2 separate regions of the Homo sapiens genome follow, and region 2 is linked to region 1. The links come from fine-mapping of genetic effects on gene expression. A gene starts in region 1. The other region holds a variant in brackets. All regions are shown on one strand. Distances are between the middles of the regions. Region 1 holds the start of PDP1 (pyruvate dehydrogenase phosphatase catalytic subunit 1). Region 2 has its middle 28 kb from the start of PDP1.

The links. PIP is the estimated chance that this variant, and not a neighbour inherited with it, causes the effect. A credible set is the group of variants that fine-mapping cannot tell apart.
Region 2: its variant is the best candidate, but not a certain one, in a credible set for the expression of PDP1 in lung (TOPMed, PIP 0.79).

Annotation. Positions count from the first base shown.
Region 1 is chr8:93,914,259-93,918,650 of GRCh38, forward strand. It overlaps PDP1 (pyruvate dehydrogenase phosphatase catalytic subunit 1), which reads left to right and starts at 2,665. Exons shown (of 2, transcript NM_018444.4): 1 at 2,665-2,821. It overlaps MIR378D2HG (MIR378D2 host gene), which reads right to left and starts at 2,386. Exons shown (of 1, transcript NR_170280.1): 1 at 1,476-2,386. MIR378D2 (microRNA 378d-2) reads right to left here and starts at 1,861; the gene lies at 1,764-1,861. RefSeq lists silencers at 2,406-2,745, 2,876-3,605.
Region 2 is chr8:93,942,479-93,946,870 of GRCh38, forward strand. It overlaps the pseudogene PSMA2P2. Among named protein-coding and RNA genes, the nearest start is that of PDP1, 28 kb to the left of the region's middle. The variant A/C (reference allele first, on the strand shown) is at 2,047.

The sequences.
Region 1 (4,392 bases):
GGTAACAGCTTTGAAGAGGTCATTTGATATGGATGTTGGACTCTGTTTTTTTTTTGGAGATGGAGTCTCACTCTGTTGCCCAGGCTGGAGTGCAGTGCTGCAATCTCAGCTCACTGCAACCTCCACCTCCCAGATTCAAGCAATTCTCCTGCCTCAGCCTCCCAAGTAGCTGGGATTACAGATGCCTACCACCACACCCGGCTAATTTTTTGTATTTTTAGTAGAGATAGGGTTTCACCATGTTGGCCAGGCTGGTCTCAAACTCCTGTCCTCAAGCAATCCACCTGTCTTGGCCTCCCAAAGTGCTGGGATTACAGGTGTGAGCCACCGCACCTGGCCTGGATGTTGGATTCTTACTACTCTATTTCACAACCATTAAAAAAAAAAGCTTTTTGTTTTTTTTGAGACGGGAACTTGCTTACTCGCCTAGGCTGGAGTGCAGTGATGCATCACTGCTTACAGCAGCCTCAGCTTCCTGGGATCAGGCAAGCCTCCTGAGTAGCAGAGACTATAGGCAGGCGCCACCACACCCAGCTAATTGCTTTTTAGATTCTTTGTAGAGATGAGGTCTATGTTGCTCAGGCTGGTCTCTGGGCTCAAGCAATTCTTCCGCCCCGGCCTCCCAAAGTGCTGGGATTACAGGCAGGAGCCCACCAAGCCTGGCCAGGAAAAAGTTGATAAGACAACAGAGAAGTCTAGTATGTACTTCATTTCTGGGTCATAAAGCAGAAACTCTTAAAATTCCACTCACAGCTTCAGTTAAGTGGGTCTCTATGTCCACAAAGTAAGGGTTAAGAGGCAGAGATCCTCTATATAAATGAATTTAAACTGATATTCTAAGGTTCAAAGATTCTCCATTCTATTAATAACTTATTAGTACCTAACAATAGAATATAATGCACTTGGGGGCCTGGGTCTCCTACTTGCTAGGAGTTCTTAATCTAAAACACTGACCTGGACATGTCGATAATATCAAGAATAGCTAACACTTATATAACACTACATGCTATGTACTTTCTTAGCAAGCTATATATGTCAACTCTCTTAATACAGCCCTGCTATTACTTTTTACATTTTTATCTTATATGTGAGAGAATGAGGCATGCAGAGTTGCCCATGACCACACAGAAAGCTGCAGAGCTGGGAATGGAACCCAGCCAGCTTGGCTCCAGCTGCACTCTTAATCACTAGGCTACACCATCCTATGCATCTATGAAGAAGAAACCAGATACTTAAATTAAATGACAGGAAGAGTAGTGGAGAATATTTGCAATTTATGGGAAGCCCATTTGAGAAGCAAAAAGGAGAGGATGAAGGGAGGCAGATGGACCTGTAAAAACTGGGATGAAGGCCAGACAGACTAGCCACAAAAGTTCCATGGGTAACCTGGGGATGGGCAAAAACAGTCTCCTCTAGTTTATTTAGAGAACAGAGAATACAGCAACTTGAAAGATCCAGGAGTTATAAAGGACCAGTTTGGGTATATAACGTTTTTTATTACATAAAAAGAAATTCACTCCACATCATTTTGTGAACCTGACTGGCTAGTAAGAAGTTATGTGTAATAAATCAAAGTCAACTTATTGGTGAACACTAGGGAAGATAAGTGCAATGCTCTATCTGCCACTGCCAAGGAAGCTTTCAGAAGCCACTATCCCATAAAAGGGATGTATGGATGTAAGTCACTGAAGAGCCCTCGAAGATATCTTGTTTTACCACAGACAATACCAATGCCACCTTAAGTCTAATCTCATCTGAGGTGGAAACAATCTCATGGAACAGAAATGGGACTTAGAGCAGGGAATGACTTGGATGAAAGTTTTCTGACTCCAAGTCCAGTGTTCTCTCCTTGTAACCATTCAGGGCAACGGAAACAATACTGATTTCAAAACTCCTCAGAGAACGTGAGCACACATCTACGCTACAGAGATAATTCCCTCATCACAACTCCCTCTTGCTGCTGTCTACACCTGCTTCCTCTCCCTGGGGCGATAGAAAACATGATGGGCGTTAATGCTCCTAAAATCTGCAACGTATCAAACGAACGAAGCAACAGCTACTCTCGAGGTTCTTTGCTACGCCTTGTACCGCAGGCTGGGGTGAGCCGCAGGGAGTTGAGGTTCCCGTGAGGCTGGGAGCCGCTCCCGCAGCCTACCCTGGGAAGCCCGCACCCAACCGCGAGGCGCAGGGGAGGCTTGGCCGCTGGGCCGGCCACCCACACCACCGCATCCCCGCAGAGGTGCCAGAGATTCTAGGAAGCCTGCACGACAGGGGAGCAGCCCGTTCCTCGGGCCCCATGCACGCGAAGACATTGGAGCCGGCCCAGGCGCCTCCCCTCTCCCGACCCCGCAGCCTGCTCAGCCAACACCGCCGAGCTCCACAGACCACCGCTCCCTAGCGCCGCGCAGCCACACCTTCCACTCGCTGGGGGCGGGGGGGGGGGGGTCACGTGAGGCGGGCCCGGGGAACCAATGGGCGGCTCGCGCCGAATGGAAGGGATTGTCTGACCCCCGTGACGTCACAAAGCTGGCGGGGAGCGCGCTCCTCTTCCGCCCCCGCCCCACCCCCGGCCGCAGCCCTCTCCGCCTCCCCTCCCACTCGTCACTGCGCAGCCAATCGGCAGGCGGGAAGCACTCCGGCCCGAACGTGCGGGCGGGGCAGGGTGGCGGCCCCGCACGGTAGGGGAGCAGAGTGGGCAGGCCGGGGGTGAGGGCTCGCGCTCCGGGAGCTGCACGGGGCTGCGTGGAAAGAGCGCCGAGCGGTGGCGTCGTTGTCGCCCCCTCCTCGTCGGGAAGAATCGTTTGGTCTCCTGCCGTGCCCGGTTCGTATTCCCTACTCCCTGCCACGAGCCGCCCCGTCCGGGATCCTCCACCCGTCCAAAGTTGTGAGGGGGCGCCGGGCGTGCTCGCGGATCGGCGGCCGCGGGCGTGCGGAGGGCTGGACGAGCCCTGGAGCGCCAGGTGCGCGCCGGGCGTCCGGGCTGTGGGGCGGGCGTGGCGGCGCTGGGGGCCGTCGGGGGGCTGGGGGCGGGGGCGGGGGCGCCGTGCAGCCCTAGCGTCTTCCGGCCCCTGCGCTCCAGCTGTCAGCACGAAGGGCGCCGCGGGGCCGGCGGCAGAGTGAGCTCCAGGGAGGCTGTAGGGCTGCGGCACTGCCTGAGGGTCTCCCTGACGCACCCCGGGTCAGGGCTGGCCCCGCTGGCAGCCTGACACCGGCCGGCCCCTGTTCGTCTGGACTGAAACGGGCACCCCTGGGGCGGGGCCGGGCCGGGCAGGGCGGGGCGGGCAGCGGGCGGGGCTGCAGTCCATGGGCTTCGCGCCCCGGCTGGATGGAGGGGCTGGCCCTCGGGGCGCACCCCTGCTCGCGCCTGGGCCCCGCTGCCTTGGGCTGTGGCTTTGCCTCCCCGGCGGGGTGGGTTGGTTTGGTTGGCTTCCTTGTTCTCTCCACCCCTTTATCCCTCCTCCATCCTCTTCCCCCCCACCTCCCAGCCCATTCACCGGGCTGGAGCGAGACCTCGCCCCTCCTCCGCTCCCGCCTCCCCGCCGCCGCCTCCTCTAATGAGCATCTCTGCCTTGCTTTCAATGGGCCGGTGCTGCTGTCGCTGCTGCTGCCCGCGCGGGTTGTGGATGTTGTCGGCTCCGTGTTGTGATGACAGGAGAATGTGTGTGTGTCCCGGGCCCAGACGAATTGGTAGGTATTCACTTAACTACCTGCGTTGGGTACCCAGGAAGGATGGTGACAGATTTTTGTGTATGGATGGTTTTAGATGAATCAGCGTGGTATTAAGGGATGAGATAGATTGGAAAAAGGGACAAACGCGTCTTGGATTGAGATAGCTTTGATGTCTTTGTGAGTGCAGTTTTTCAGGTAGCGACAAAGGAAACTAATCAAAAAAATACTGGCGTGTGGTGCTTCGTATCTTTCTTCATTTATGTAAAAAGATAGCAGGAGCTGTGAAATGGCTAGGCATTTCCAGAAAAATGTTGAAAAATCGCGGATGGTCTTTATGTAGAGTGTTTAATGCAATCGGATTACATAAACTGGGGTTCCGACACATTAAATGATTAGCATAGCTTTTCTTTTTCATTTACATCAGAAGCTTTGCAAAGCTAAAGGGCTCTGGAGTCGGTGCCTTAATAGCATTTGCTAATTAATTTGGTCCGTGGGTCTATTGATGGAGTGGAAAAAATGTCTTGGCACAGGCTCTGCTAAGCACATCAGTAAGAATGGACGGCTCTCTTTCCTGTTTCTGGTTGCAGTGCATCTTTCTTTATTAGTCATTGGCAAAATCAGCCCAATCTGCCTGGGATGAAGATGCTACATACAACGTGGCTGAGTCTAGATCATGGAATAGGAAATTTTCCGTGAAAATTGTGATCAAGAATAACTTGCAAA
Region 2 (4,392 bases), 28 kb after region 1:
TCAACCTTTAGGCTGTTTTTGGTTTAAAGGTGGGGTTTCACTGGGGACCCGCCCCTATCTGCCTAGGCATTTGGCTGCTTCCTGTCGTTATCATTGGTACGGAGATATTACAGTATTGCTGAGCTGTTTTTGAATTCCATGCACAAGCACTCTGATCTGGATCCGCACCACCGTGCACCAAACCGCTACGCTTGGTAATGGGTTCTACTTTGTGTGCACTTTGCTCATCATACAGAATGGATTTCTGTGTCTTCTCAGTGCTAATACCACACCATTTGCAGCTGTAATTCCCACTGAAGGGGCTCCTCCCACTACAGCAGCTAAAGCATATTCAGTGTGGACAAGTGTACCAGATGGGCTGAGTGTAGTCAGCAAGAAGCTGTACCTGTGCTCTGCCATCTTTACCTGGAGAGCCAAAGCACATCCCCTCACTTTTCTTCTCTGGCTCCCAACCTGACTTTAACTGTGTTTTCCCTCCGTGCCTCTGTGCAAAATACCAAACACAAGTACTGGAGATCCAATTCCAGAATGGCAGTGTGAGAAGTTTCTCGGACCTGCTTCCCAGTGAAACATCAGTAATTGGTGAAAATTATTAGGAGAAAAACCCCAACACTTAGAGTCACTGGAGATTGTCCAGAGAACATACAGCAAATGAATAAATATTTATTCAAGTAAATCTACTAAATTTTGGACAGTGAGAGTCTGCGACACTTGATCTGCTCCCTGCCTCCCGCTACCCTCAAACTCCATGTGATGGAAGATCCACTGCAGGTTGGGTGGCCAAGAATATGGAGACCCAGCTCCCAGTCTCTCCCAGAGTTCAGGCTGCCAGCATTTCTCTCATCCCCTTCTCCATGTGGCAGAGGCTAAATTCTCAGTGAGTACAGCCAAAGAGGTGGGGACTCCTGTCCTTCACTCAGCTCTCTACTGCTACCCTAGACATGACAGGTTGAAAACACTAGGCCCCAGTTGCTTTTGCCCCGGCTTGCTTTTAGGGCAGATGTTGCTCACTGGAAGAACCAAGCCAAGAAAACTAGATGCTACTGCTCCTGTCCAGCATGCTGCTCATAAAACAAGGGTGTCATTTTGAAAGAAGTGTGCCACTGTCCCCACCCCCAGCTCCGGAGCAATGGTACAGAGGTTTTGCCCAGGGAGAGCAGGCCATAAGAAGAGAGAGCTCTGGCTGGGCACGATGGCTTATGCCAGCACTCCTAGCACTTTGGGAGGCTGAAGCAGGCAGATTGCTTGACCTTAGGAGTTCAAGCCCAGCCTGGGCAACATGGCAAAACCCTGCCTCTACAAAAAATACAAAAAAAATAGCTGGGTGTGTGGTGCATGCCTGTAGTCTCAGCTACTTGAGGAGCTGAGGTGGGAGGATTGCTTGAGCCCAGGAGGTCAAGGCTGAAGTGAGCTGCAATCACACCACTGCACCCCATCCTAGGTGACAAAGTGAGACCTTGACTCTAAATAAATAAATAAGAGAGAGAGAGAGCATGAGCTCTGAGCTATCTTTAAATAAATTGACTTTATCTTAAGCAAAATGTGAGGAAGTTGATGCCTGAGGGCTCTCTGGAAAACAATGGAAGTTAAGGTGATAAGCAATTAAGAGGAGGCTGGTAGCCCCAGGGGAGCTATGAGCTAACACAGGTCAGCTGATTTACCAAAGAGACAAGGGGAGGGGTAGGGGAGAAAGCTAAGAAGATCCTTCCTGGGGTTGGAACAAACCTCAAAGACTAGCCTCAAAAACCACTCCTGCAAATAGGCCCAGATTTAATTGGATCCAACGGTAATTTATGCTGCAGGACATCCAGGACATTATCAAAAACAATAGAGCAATCAACATGCAATTAGTGGAGCCTAACAGCTGGATGTGATACCAACAGAGGCAGACAGCTTAACAGAGAGATCAGGGAAAGACGCAAAGAAAGCCCTGCTAAAATCACTGTCACTTCTGGGTGACTGTGCAAATGTCCAAGATCATGTCCTCTGAAGATCAACTTCAGAGGCTTCACTGTGGAGAAAATAGACTTTCCTGAAATAGCCCTG[A/C]CATGTCACTAAAAAATAAGAAAACAACAAAAAGTAGCTCTATAGGTTTGTAGGGAAGAATCAGTATATAGCATTCTTAAAATATATTATTCAATTGTCTAGTTTTCAACAAAAAAAGGCAAGATATGCAAAGAATCAGGAAACTGTGACTCACACACAGAGGGGAAAAAAAGCAGACAACCAAAACTGCCTGTCAGAAGGCCCATATGTCAGACTTGACAAAGACTTCAAACTAGTTATAATAAATATGTTCAAAGAACTAAAGGAAACTATGCTTAAAGAAGTAAAGAATAATATGATGACAATCTCATCAAATAGAGACTAGCAATAAAGATATATATGTCAACCAATAATTTGGTTGTTACACATTTTAACTCAAGAATTTTCATTTGGTTCTTTACATGCATATGTGTATATATATATATATACATATACATACATACACACACATACACATATATATTTATTTAAATACATAAATTTATATTACACATAGTGCAGCATATGCAAAGATGTATATATGTAATATCAGTTTATGTATTTACATAAATGTGTATATATGTACATATACATATATGTATGTATGTTTATATGTAAATAATGAACCAAATCAAAATTCTAGAGTTGAAATGTAAAACACCAAGGTGAAAAATTTACTAGAGGGCCTCAAGAGTAGATTTGGCAGAACAAAGAATCAGCAAACTTGAAGATAGATCAATAGAGATAAGGCAGCCTGAAGAGTGGAGAAGGAAAAAAAAAGAAAATAATGAATATGAACAGATTATTAGAGAAATGTTGGACATCATTAAATGCACCAAAATATGCATGACTGGAGTACCAGAATAAGAGGAGAGAGAGAAAAAGTAACAGAAAAAACACATTTAAAAAACTTGTGGCTTAAAAGTTCCCAAATTTGATGTAAAACATTAATCTTGAAAAACAACCTGGTGAGAGAATAACACATTTGGAGGACTCACATCCCTATTTCAAAACTTAATACAAAGCTATAGTAATCAAGACTGTGTGATACTGGCATATGGATAGACATACAGATCAATAGAATTTAAATGAGAGTCCAGAAATAAACTTTCATATTTATAGTCAATTGATTTCTAGCAAGGGTGCCAAGACAATTCAGTTGGGGGAAAGGCAGTCTTTTCAACAAATCGTGCTAGTACAACTGTAAAGCCTCATGCAATACAATGAAGTTGGATCCTTTCTTACTTCATACACAGAAATGGACTCAGTATGAATCATGGAGCTAAATGTGAAAGATAAAACTATAAAATTCTTAGGAGAAAATATAGGAGTAAATCTTTGTGACCTTGCATTATGCTAAGCCCTCTTAGATTGATGCCAGAAGTACAAGTGACAAAGTAAATGATAAATTGGACTTCATCAATATTAAAATTTTGGGCTTCAATGGACATCATTAGATTGGATAAAATATTTCTAATTTGACATCCACAGAATTGATATTTATAAATCATATATATGGTAAATGACTTGTATTTATTAGATATCGACAGAGTCTCTCTTGGTCACCCAGGCTGGAGTACAGTGGCACGATCATAACTCACTGCAGCCTCTACTCCTGGGTTCAAGTGATCCTCTTGCCTCAGCCTCCCGAGTAGCTGGGACTACAGGCACACACCACCATGACTAGCTAACTTAAAAAAAATTTTTGTACAGACAGGGTCTCCCTGTGTTGCCCAGGCTGGTCTTGAACTCCTGTTCTCAAGTGATCTTTCTGCCTCAGCCTCCCAAAACACTGGGATTACAGGTATGAGCCACTGAGCCTGGCCAATGATTTTTTTTGAATTATGTCTTTCTCTCAATGCTGCTGATATGACAGGAGCAACATTAATTAGTTTCCTTGTACTCTCTTCTTGACACATGTAAAGACTCATCTATCCCATGAAGCTTTTTTTTTCTTTTCAAGCAGTGCTATGTTACATTAGAATATCTTCTTGCAGAGAGGTTACAAGATCCTGTATTATTGTTTGATACTTTTTATGTATTGAATTTGATGATATTAATGTCTGCATATCAACTACAGCACTTTTTATTATTATTATTATACTTTAAGTTCTGGGATACATGTGCAGAATGTTCAGGTTTGTTACATAGGTATACATGTACCATGGTGGTTTGCTGCACCCATCAATCTGTCATCTACAATAGGTATTTCTCCTAATGCTATCCCTCCCCTAGCCCCCAACCTCCTGACAGGCCCTGGTGTGTGATGTTCCCCTCCCTGTGTCCATGTGTTCTCATTGTTTAACTTCCACTTATGAGTGACAGCATGCGGTGTTTGGTTTTCAGTTTCTGTGTTAGTTTGATGAG